Regions from separate parts of the Homo sapiens genome. Here region 2 is linked to region 1. The links come from fine-mapping of genetic effects on gene expression. A gene starts in region 1. The other region holds a variant in brackets. All regions are shown on one strand. Distances are from middle to middle. Region 1 holds the start of TLK1 (tousled like kinase 1). Region 2 overlaps TLK1 (tousled like kinase 1).

Region 1 (5,242 bases):
GTCCCAGCTACTCAGGAGGCTGAGGCATGAGACTTCCTTGAATCTGGGAAGCAGAGGTTGCAGTGAGCCAAGATTGCACCACTGCACTCCAGCCTGGGTGACAATTAAAAAAAAAAAAAGTACTATGAATTGGCATAAGGATAACTTAAAAACTTGAAGCTCTGGAGAAGGTTGGGAGAAAGATAACCTACCATCATCAAACCTTTTTGGTTGGGCTTTGTTTACCATTTTTGAGAGGAACTGAGCTCTGTACAGTCTCAGAATTGGTAGGAGCTTTAAAAATCACTCAGTGACTCTAACCTCTTTCTCGTAGATGAGGAAATTGAATCAAGTTACCTGCTGAGACTAATACTCAGGTCTCTTAACTTCCTTCCTGTCCCATGTTCTTTTCACCGCAATCTGCTGACTAAGCTTACTCTTAAAAATACAGAAAGAGCATACATTTATCAACATGTCATTACAGAAACTCTGTTCCTCTTATAGTGCATGTATTTAGGTATAAAAATCGAATGGCAAGATCCTGGGTATGTATCCAAGGGAAAGGAAAGCCTATGTCCACAGAAAGACTTGTACATGAATGTTCTTAGCAGCATTATTCGTAACAGCCAAAAAGTGAAAACAATGCAAATGTCCATCAATAGTTTAATGGATAAACAAGTGTGGTACACTCATTCAGTGTAATACTACTTAAAAATAAAAACAAACTATTGATAATGCAACAATGTGGACGAATCTCTCAAAAAAATAATGTCGAGTGAAAGAAGCCAGACAAGGCCTGGCACGGTGGCTCAGGCCTGTAATCCCAGCACTTTGGGAGGCCAAGGTGGGCGGATCACCTGAGGTCAGGAGATTGAGACCAGCCTGGCCAACATGGTGAAACCCCATCTCTACTAAAAATACAAAGTTAGCTGGATGTAGTGGCACGTGCCTGTAATTCCAGCTACTCAGGAGGTTGAGGCAGGAGAATCATTTGAACCCGGGAGGCGGAGGCTGCAGTGAGCCGAGATGGCACTCCAGCCTGGGCAAAACAGAGTAAGACTCTGTCTCAAAAACAAAAAACAAAAAACAAAACCAAAGCCAGACAAGAGTACAAATTGACTGTATGGCCTGCATTTATCTAAAATTCTATGAAATGGAAAGCTACCCATATGACAGAAAGATCTGTGGTTGGAGAGAATGGAAGTAGTGTGGAGGAGGAACCACAAAGAGGAAACTTTGGAGGGTGATAGATACATTCACCATCTTCCTTGTAGAAGTGGTTTCAGGGAGGTATACACATCAAAACTTATCAAATTGTACACTTTATTTTTATTTTTTTGAGACAGAGTCTAGGAGTCTCGCTCTGTCGCCCAGGCTGGAGTGCAACGTTGCGATCTAGGCTTACCGCAACTTCTGCCTCCCGGGTTCAAGCGATTCTCCTGCCTCAGCCTCCCGAGTAGCTGGGACTTCAGGCGCGTGCCGCTACACCCGGCTAATTTTTGTATTTTAAGTAGAGATGGGGTTTCACCATGTTGGCCAGGCTGGTCTCAAACTCCTGACCTCGTGATCCGCCCACCTCGGCCTCCCAAAGTGCTGGGGTTACAGGCGTGAGCCACCGCACCTGGCCAATAATTGTACACTTTAAATATGTGCAGTTTATTTTGTCAATTATACCTCAATAAAGTTGTTTGTGAGATGTCCCTCTTAAGTTTGAAAAGCAGACAAGACTAAAAACTCACTGAAGTATCTAAAGCACAAGGCAACTACAATTACTTCTGGAGATAACTGACAATCAAGGTTCTTTTCTAGTATGATAGTTTATCTGAACAAAACATTACTATGAGAAATGCGAAGTCATAAAAATAAAAAATAGAAACGACATTTTTGTCCCCCTGGTAATCATGCCATTTCCTCTTGTCTGTGCAGTAGCGCTATATCATAATCTTTTTAGTGCTCTATTCAATTTGGTTTTCTAAAGAGAGAAATAACCTTGTTGTACTTTTCCTGAACTAGAGTGCTCTTTTATGTACAAGAAGCCCAATCCCTGGTGTGAGTATACTTGTGTGGGTCTGTAGAAAGCTACACTCTATCTATAAATTTTAGCAAATGCTGTTATTTATTTTGGGATTTTTGTAGTCGGGACTCAGCGGAGACACTAGAAACAAATTATAAGTTTCTAGAAACCATACCTTCTGCAAGATGAACGCTGTATAGTTTTCCTAAATATGTGATTCAGTAATCACATTTTTCATTTAGATTTTCCACTTACTGTTTTAAAACAAAGAATTGCTATACCATACAGTCTACAAAACTGGTAATTTTCAATTTCCTCATTAAAGATTCTTCACTCTTTTTTAGAAAACACGAGAAAGTTTTATTTCCCAACTCTCCCACTACCCATGTTTATTTTCATAGCTCTTTTATTCGGTCATTATTCCCATTCTGCAGACGGGGAGGCGCACATACGTTTTTCTGCACAGTACAGAGGGGCAAGAAAGAAGGAACTCTCAACTTTTCAGTTCCATTTTGAGAAACGATCACATTGAACTCCCGAGAAGCGGCAGCTGAGCGAGAGCAGCAGCATTTCTCCCCGTGTTGGGTGTGGGTCAGGAGAGAGGCGCGCTTCCGCGGGAGACAGGGGGAGTCAGGTGGCAGCGGCGCTGGAGCCCGAGCGGCGCGGCGGGGGCGCGCCTCCCTCCGGCCGGCGCGGGGACGCTGCCCCCGCGCACGCGAGTCCGGCAACCCCGGGCTCCCGCGCCGCGCGGCGATCCGCGGGTGCGGCAGGGGCGCCCCGGCGCTCTAGTCTCTTCCCTCGCGCGCTCGCTCCTTCCCCATGCCCCCACCCCCCAGCCCCTGGCAGGTCCCTCCCCCAAGCCTGCTCCCGCGGCCGCCGCTGCCGCCGCCGCCGCCGCCGCCGCTACCGGAGGCGCAGGAGCCTCGCGATAGTGTTTGCACAGGCGGCGCGTGACGCCGCCGCCGCCTGTAACTGATGCAGAGGTTACCCCACCGCCTCAGCCGCCACCCACAGCCCGCCGCCGCCGCCTCCCGGGCGACGCCGGGGGCCGACGCACTGCAGAGGTGCCGGCAGGTTCCGCCCGCGGAAGTGTCCTCGGCCGGCGCAGCCCGCGCTCCGCCCGCGCTCCGACCCCGGCCCGGCTGGCACCCCCTCGACGCCTCCGCCGCCGCGCTCCTTTCCTCCTCCTCTCCTCTGGCGCGCCCGCTCGCTCCCTCGCTTCTCCCCCTTTCCCTCCTCCCTGTCCCCTCTCCTTCCCTCACCTCTTTCCTCCCCACCTCCCCTCTTCTCGGTTTCCTCCCCCATCCCCTTGACTCTCCCCTCCCAGCCCTCGCTCTCTCGCTCGCCCTCAGCGCGGCCCCCGCCATGACGGAGGCGGGTGCCGGTGCCGTTGCCGCCGCTGCCGTCGCAGGGGGGGAGTCGGGTTCCCAGAAAGTAGCTTGATGAGTGTCCAAAGTAGCAGTGGAAGTTTGGAGGGGCCGCCATCTTGGTCCCAGCTCTCCACGTCTCCAACCCCGGGCTCGGCGGCGGCGGCCAGGTCCCTGCTGAATCACACGCCGCCATCCGGGAGGCCCAGGGAAGGTAAGCACCGCCGCGCCCGCGCCCGCTCGCGGGCCTCCTCTCCCGCGCCGCGGACCCCCGCGCCCCCCCCCCGCCCCCCCCGCCCCGGGGCTTCTCCGCCAGACCCTGGGGTGGGGGATGGTGGCGAGGTGGACGCGAGGCCGCCCGGCTCCCCGGCTCTGGGGAGGTAGTGCCCTGGCTGTGGATGGTGGTTCGCGGGTGGCGGAGGAGACGGACGAGGGGGTGCGCGCTGGTGGGGACGGGGCGAGGCGCATAGACTCGCCTGGGGTTCCTGGGAGCCAGTCCTGCGAGGGTGGGAAGCCTCCCCCCAGACGCGAGCCCCTTTCTGCTCCATTTGCCAGTACACTCAGTACTCTTAACCTCCTGGCCTCCGGTCTCTGGTGGGTTTTCCCTCCCGCTGGAGCCTTCGTCCTCGAGCCCCCTCCCCTTCTCCCGCGCACTCCTCCCATAGAGGCGGTCCCCACTTTGCGAGCTTTGCTGCCCGGGACCTGGAGGATGCCCCTCGCTTGCTGGGTTTCTCCTTTGGGGAGAGACGCTGAAATTATCTGGGCAGACTTTGATCCCCTGTGTGGCCCCCTAGAGCAATTTAAACGACAGACTGACTCGTGGGCAGGCTTTTAAAACCGCCCCTCCAGATGGTTGCAACTTTCTCTCCTTCGCCGTTGCTTCCTGCGTGTTTGTGCGTTATATTCTCTGCTGCAAGTAGGCTACTGTTCTTCTGTGACAGGGTCGTGGGTTTTGTGGGAAATATCTGCGTAAAGGTTATTGCAAACACGCACCAAATCGGTTACAATTGTTTTCTAAGTTTTCTGGCTTCTTGCAAGCAAGTGGGCTGCCACCAGATGTAGCAGTTACACAGCTTGTAAGGCACCGGCGTGCTTTTGACTAAAATTTCAACTTGCTGTATCTAAGTATACAACATAAAATGAAATTTGGGAGAAAACACATTTATGGGGAATGAATAAATGTGCATGGAATGTCTTTTAACGCTCTTTAGTCTGGAAAAAGCTTAGCGGTATTCATCCGCAATTGGTAGACGGGCTGTTCACTCCTAGTTGTCGCACACGAGGAGATAGGCACATTTTCAAATGTCTGGAAGTTCAACCGTCTAGTGAATGTTTTAAAGAAATCAAGAGCTTCGATTTATGTAGGAATCGGTGCGAGTACTTTATTTTGAAAATATCTGTCGATATTTGCTAGTCAGAGCCTTGACAAGTGTTAATCAAGTGTTTTGTGCCCTGAATCCAGTGGTTCAGGCATAGCATTCTTTGTCATTTTGTTCCTGTGAGCATGTGTGAAAGTGACAATAGGCTTAAAGATTGGCATGAATATGCTCTAGAAAATTCACGGAAAGCTTTGATTTATGGGATCCATTAAACATGCGGAATACATTGACAGACGTTTCCCCCTTTCATCTTATCCCAACGCTGAGCTTTCATTGTTAGAATATAGAAGTTTATTTATTAAATGACTAGAAATTTAGTATATCTGGTGATTCTTTTGCACTTGAAAATTTTTAAATGAACGGTTTAAAATGTATTTCATAGAGAAGTTGATGCTTGCTTTTAGCATGCTTTTACTTTTGTTTGTAGTTTCATTAAGATGTTTAATGTTAGTGTTATGAGTTTAAAAAGACCATTTTATTGTTTCTTGTTTAAGGCTATATCA
Region 2 (5,242 bases), 54 kb after region 1:
AGGCATGAGCCACCACACCTGGCCTTTTTAGTCCATTTTCTAGATGAGGAACATTTGTGTTGTTTCCAGTGTTTTGATAATTAGGAATAAAGGTATTATAACCATTCACGTATTCCCCCCTCTTAGATTTGGAAATTGTTCAGTGTAAATACCACACAAAACAAAATATAGAACACTTCCATCCCTCCAGAGAGTTTTCTTCTGCCCCTTTCCAGTCAGTTCCCTCTTGTCAAACCCTTTCCCCCAACCCTTATCTAATTTCTGTCACTACAGATTAGTTCTGCCTGTACTTGGATTCCATATACAGTAAATGAAAGTATGCAGTATATTCTTTTGTATCTGGCATCCTTTATTTAATGTAGTGTTTTTGAGATTTATCCAGGTTGTTGCTGTTTTAGTAGTTAATTCTTTTTGTTGCTGAATAGAATTCCACTGTATGGATATACCACAGTTATGCATTTAGTAGAGTGGTATTTGGATGTTTTCATTTTGCCTGTTAGGAGTAAGGTTACAATAAACATTTTGGTACAAATGTTTTGGTAACATGTTTTAATTTCTCTTGGGAAGATACTTAGCTGGATAGATGTATATTTTACTTGGTAAGAAACTGCCAGATTTCCAAAGTGTTTGTACCTGTATAAGAACTTTGATTGTTCTGCATCCTCCCTGACATTTTGTTGTGATTCTTTTTCATTTTAGTGTAGTGGGTGTGAAGTAATATCAGCTCGTTTATTTTAACTTTTCTTGTTTCTTGATTAATGCTGTCCCTCCAGGAACTGCTGTAACTGTTCCATAAGTTTTGATGGGTGCTGTTTTAATTAATGTTCAGATCTGTATATTTCATAATTACCTTTGTTTCCTTTTTAACACAAGGGTTATTAATATAGGATATTTTGAGCTATCTTTTTGTTGTGGATTTTCAATCTGTTGCATTACAGTTGGAAAGTAGTTTGTATGACATCAGTCCCTGACATCAGTCCCTGAATGTGCCTTATTTTAGAAACATTTCATATCTAATAGCTGTTAATTGTATTTGTTCAGATCTTAGATATCTCCTTGCATTGTCAACTTGGCGTATCTTTTTCTGAGAGAGATGTATTAAAATATTTAACTGATGATTTATGTATTTCTACTTGCTGTTCATTTGTTTTTGCTTGATATATTTTGAGGCAGTATTTTTACATGTGTATCTCTTGTTCTATTCTTTTTGTGACTGTATACTACTTACTGTTAATTTTAGCTTTCTTTTGGTTTATGTTTGTTTTAGGTATATGGTTTTCTATTTTATTTTTGCTCTTTTTAAATGTGTTTCTTGGGGCTGGGAGTAGTGGCTCATGCCTGTAATCCCAGCACTTTGGGAGGCGGGGGCAGGTGGATCACTTGAGCCCAGGAGTTCGAGACCAGCCTGGGCAACATGATGAAACCCTATCTCTACAAAACATTAGCCGGGCGTGGTGGTACCCACCTGTGGTCCCAGCTTCTTGGGAGGCTGAGTTGGGAGGATTACTTGAGCTCAGGAGGTTGAGGCTGCAGTGAGCTGAGATCATGCTACTTCACTCCAGCCTGGACGACAGAGTGAGACCCTGTCTCATTTAAAAAAAAAAAAATTAAATGCATTTCTTGTAGACAGCATATGTTTTTTGATACAATAGGAGCATTCGACTCTCTTAAATGGTGAGTTTTGTTTATTACATTTTTTGTAATTATTGTTATTTTCTGACTCAGTTCTGCCATCTATTGCTTAATGTCTTCTTGTACTTTACGTGTTTTCCATTGGACAAATGAATTTTTTTCCTGATGTTTTAAAGTTACATATTCTATTGTAGTGTTATAATGACAGTATACTCAGTGTAGTGTATAGTATATGAGTATAGAGTGTCATTATAACACTAAAAATGCTCTCTCAAACTGCATTCCTGTGGGTTTGTTCCCCTTAAAATTTGTATTACTTTTTACTTTGAAAATAATCTATACCTATAGATAAGTTGAAAATGTAGTATAAAGAATGCCATCATATTCTTCATCTAGATTTAAAAGGTGTAAACAGTTTTGCTTAATTTGTGTTCATGTACATCTTTACTGTGTCTCTCTGGTATTGCTGTGGTCTCCTGGCTCCTGTTTTTTTGTTGTTGTTGTTGTTGTTGTTTTTTTTTTGAGAGAGGGGTCTCACTCTGTCACCCAGGCTGGAGTACGGTGACGCAATCTCGGCTCACTGCAGCCTCTGCCTCCTAGGCTCAAGTGATCCTCATGCGTAAGCCTCCTGAGTAGCTTGGATAGGCAAGTGCCACCATGCCTGGCTAAGTTTTTTGTATTTTTTTTAGAGATGAGTCTCACCATGTTGCCCAGGCTGGCATTTAACTCCTGGGCTCAAGCAGTTCGCCCACGTCGGCCTCCCAGAATGGTGGAATTACAGGCCTGAGCCACTGCGCCTGGCCAGCTCCTTTTTTTATTCTGTTGTTATAATTCATTATTGTCTTTGAAATTCAAATTGTCCCAAATTTGGCCAGTGGAAACTCCTTCGCATGGTCACTTTAGAGATCTTTTATCAGTCTTTGGTTTTCAGACACAAGACATTTCTGGCTTCCCTCGTCCTTTTCTGCATTGAATATGAACAGACATTCTCCAAGGATTCCTGGTTCATTTTAATGAAGAATGGTGCTTAGGAACCAACATCTAGGTGCTAGTTATGCTTGTTGTTATAATACATAATAGTCTCTTAGAAGAATGCCAGCTAATGTAGAATCAGAACACTCACCATTTGACATCCCCAATATAATTATTGATTAAGGCAAGGATCATATGTTTTCCATTGGACAT[T/A]TACATTTAGTAAAATGTTTTCAAGAGCAGTATACTTACAGAGTCCTAATGTTTTACCCCATAGATTAGTTATTACAAAAGAGAAATGTGTCTAAAATGGACACCATTTCTCACCACCATAATAAGCAAGATCAGACTTTTCATTGGCATATTATCTCAGAGAATCTGACATTGTATGTGCCTCCTAAGGTGGTGCAGTAGGAGTTACACAAATCACCTCTGTTTTTAATGCTGGAAATATTTGATTTGAATTTAGTCATGAGACAATACTCCTGGGACACTGCTAGACAACTGGCCTGGACTCATCAAAGTATTCAGTGTCTTGAAGAACAAAGAGAGGTAAATGGAATTGTTGTAGATTGGATGAGGCTAAAGAGACAAGACATAGCAATCAGATGTAATGTGTGAATCTGAATCCTGATTTGCACCTGGACTGGAGGAAAACAGTTATAAAGGACGTTTTTGTGACAATAGGGAAAATTCAAGTACAGGTATATGTTGGATGAAGATACTGAATTAATGTTGGTTTTACTCTTTTGTCTTTTAAGTTGTAATTTTAAAATATAGGTGAAGCTACAGAATGTATGACAGTTGTGACCAATGACTCCTGTAATGTTTAGAGTGATGATGATAATGTGCTTGTGAGATGCAGTATTAATAGGTAGGCAAATTTTAATGATAGTAGCATCAAGAGTTTGTAATTTGGAAGTAAAAACATTCTAAGGATCAAATTGCTGGTAGCAACGGTGCTCTAGCAGAGAGGGTCGGGTAGAAAGGTAAATACATTATCTAGGAGTATTGATTTATTTCTAGAGAAAAATAGAGCAGTATATTTGCCAGCAGCAAGGAAGTAAGCACAAGCAACAGATACTGTACATACAACCTTCATTTTTTGTTTTTCTGCTTTTATTGTTTTTAATTGATAGAGTAATTGTACATATTTATGGAGTACAGTGTGATATTACATGTAGAGACAATGCATAATGATCAGATCAGGGTAATTAGCATATTTGTCACCTCAAACATTTATCATTTCTTTGTGATAGGAACATTCGAAATCTGCTCTTCCAGTTATTTGAAGATATACAATAAATTGTTGTTAATTATAGTCTTCCTATAGTGCTATAGAACACCAGGACTTACTCTTCCTATGCAGCTGTACTTCTATATTCATTAATCAACTGTTGGCTGTCCCCTCCCGCCTACTCTTCCCTGCCTCTATTCTGCTGTCTACTTACAAGATCAGCCTTTTTGGTTTCTGCATATGAGTGAGAACATGCAGTATTTATCTTTCTGTGCCTGGCTAATTTCACTTAACAATGTCCTCCAAGCTCATCAGTGTTGCTGTGAATGAGAGAAATTTTTTTAATGGTGAAATAGTATTCCATTGTGTATGTATACCACATTTTCTTTATCCATTTGTCTGTTGATGGACACTTACATTGATTCCATACTTCAGCTATTATGAATCATGTTACAGTAAACATGGGAATGCAGATATCTCTTCAGCATACTGATTTCCTTTCCTTTGTGTATACCCAGTAGTAGGATTGCTGGATCATATGGTAGTTGTATCTTTTTTTTTAAGGAGCCTCCATATTTTTTTCCATAATGGCTATACTAATTCGCACTTCCACCAACAGTGTAGGAGGGTTTCCCTTTCTCTGCATCCTTACTAGTATTTGTTATTTTTTGTCTTTTTTTTTTCGAGACGGAGTCTCGCTCTGTCGCCAGGCTGGAGTGCACTGGCGCAGTCTCGGGGCTCACTGCAGCCTCCGCCTCCTGGTTTCAAGTGATTCTCCTGCCTCAGCCTCCTGAGTAGCTGGGACTACAGGCGCACGCCACCACACTCATCTAATTTTTGTATTTTTAGTAGAGATGGCGTTTCACCATGTTGGCCAGGCTGGTCTCAAACTCCTGACCTCAAGTGATCCACCCGCCTCAGCCTCCCAAAGTGCTGGGATTACAGGCGTGAGCCACTGCGCCCAGCCAAGCATTTTTTAAATATACCTGTTAAAATTTGTATGGTTTTTGTATGGTTACTTCTTTCAAGAGATGTCTTTGCCCATTTTTAGATTGGATTATTTATTGTTTTGCTGTTGAGTTGTTTGAGTTCCTTGTAAATTCTGGATATTAATCCCTTCTCAGATGAATAGTTTACAAATCACTTTCTTGCAGGTTGTATCTTCACTCTATGATTGTTTCCTTTGCTGTGAAGAAGCTTTTTAGTTTGAGATAATAGTTTGTCTGTTTTTGCTTTTGTTGCCTGTGCTTTTGAGATCTTCTTCATAAAATCTTAACCTAGACCAATGCCCTGAAGTGTTTCCTCTAAGGTTTCTTCTAGTAGTTTCATAGTTTGGGATCTTACATTTAAATCTTTAACCCATTTTGAGTTGATTTTTGTATACAGTGAGAGATAGGGGCT

The links. PIP is the estimated chance that this variant, and not a neighbour inherited with it, causes the effect. A credible set is the group of variants that fine-mapping cannot tell apart.
Region 2: its variant is the best candidate, but not a certain one, in a credible set for the expression of TLK1 in whole blood (TOPMed, PIP 0.87).

Annotation. Positions count from the first base shown.
Region 1 is chr2:171,158,622-171,163,863 of GRCh38, reverse strand. It overlaps TLK1 (tousled like kinase 1), which reads left to right and starts at 2,971. Exons shown (of 21, transcript NM_012290.5): 1 at 2,971-3,574. The coding sequence starts at 3,436. RefSeq lists silencers at 2,381-2,440, 2,571-3,290, 3,561-3,800 and an enhancer at 3,155-3,799.
Region 2 is chr2:171,104,970-171,110,211 of GRCh38, reverse strand. All of the region lies in intron 2 of TLK1 (tousled like kinase 1), which reads left to right. Among named protein-coding and RNA genes, the nearest start is that of TLK1, 53 kb to the left of the region's middle. The variant T/A (reference allele first, on the strand shown) is at 2,818.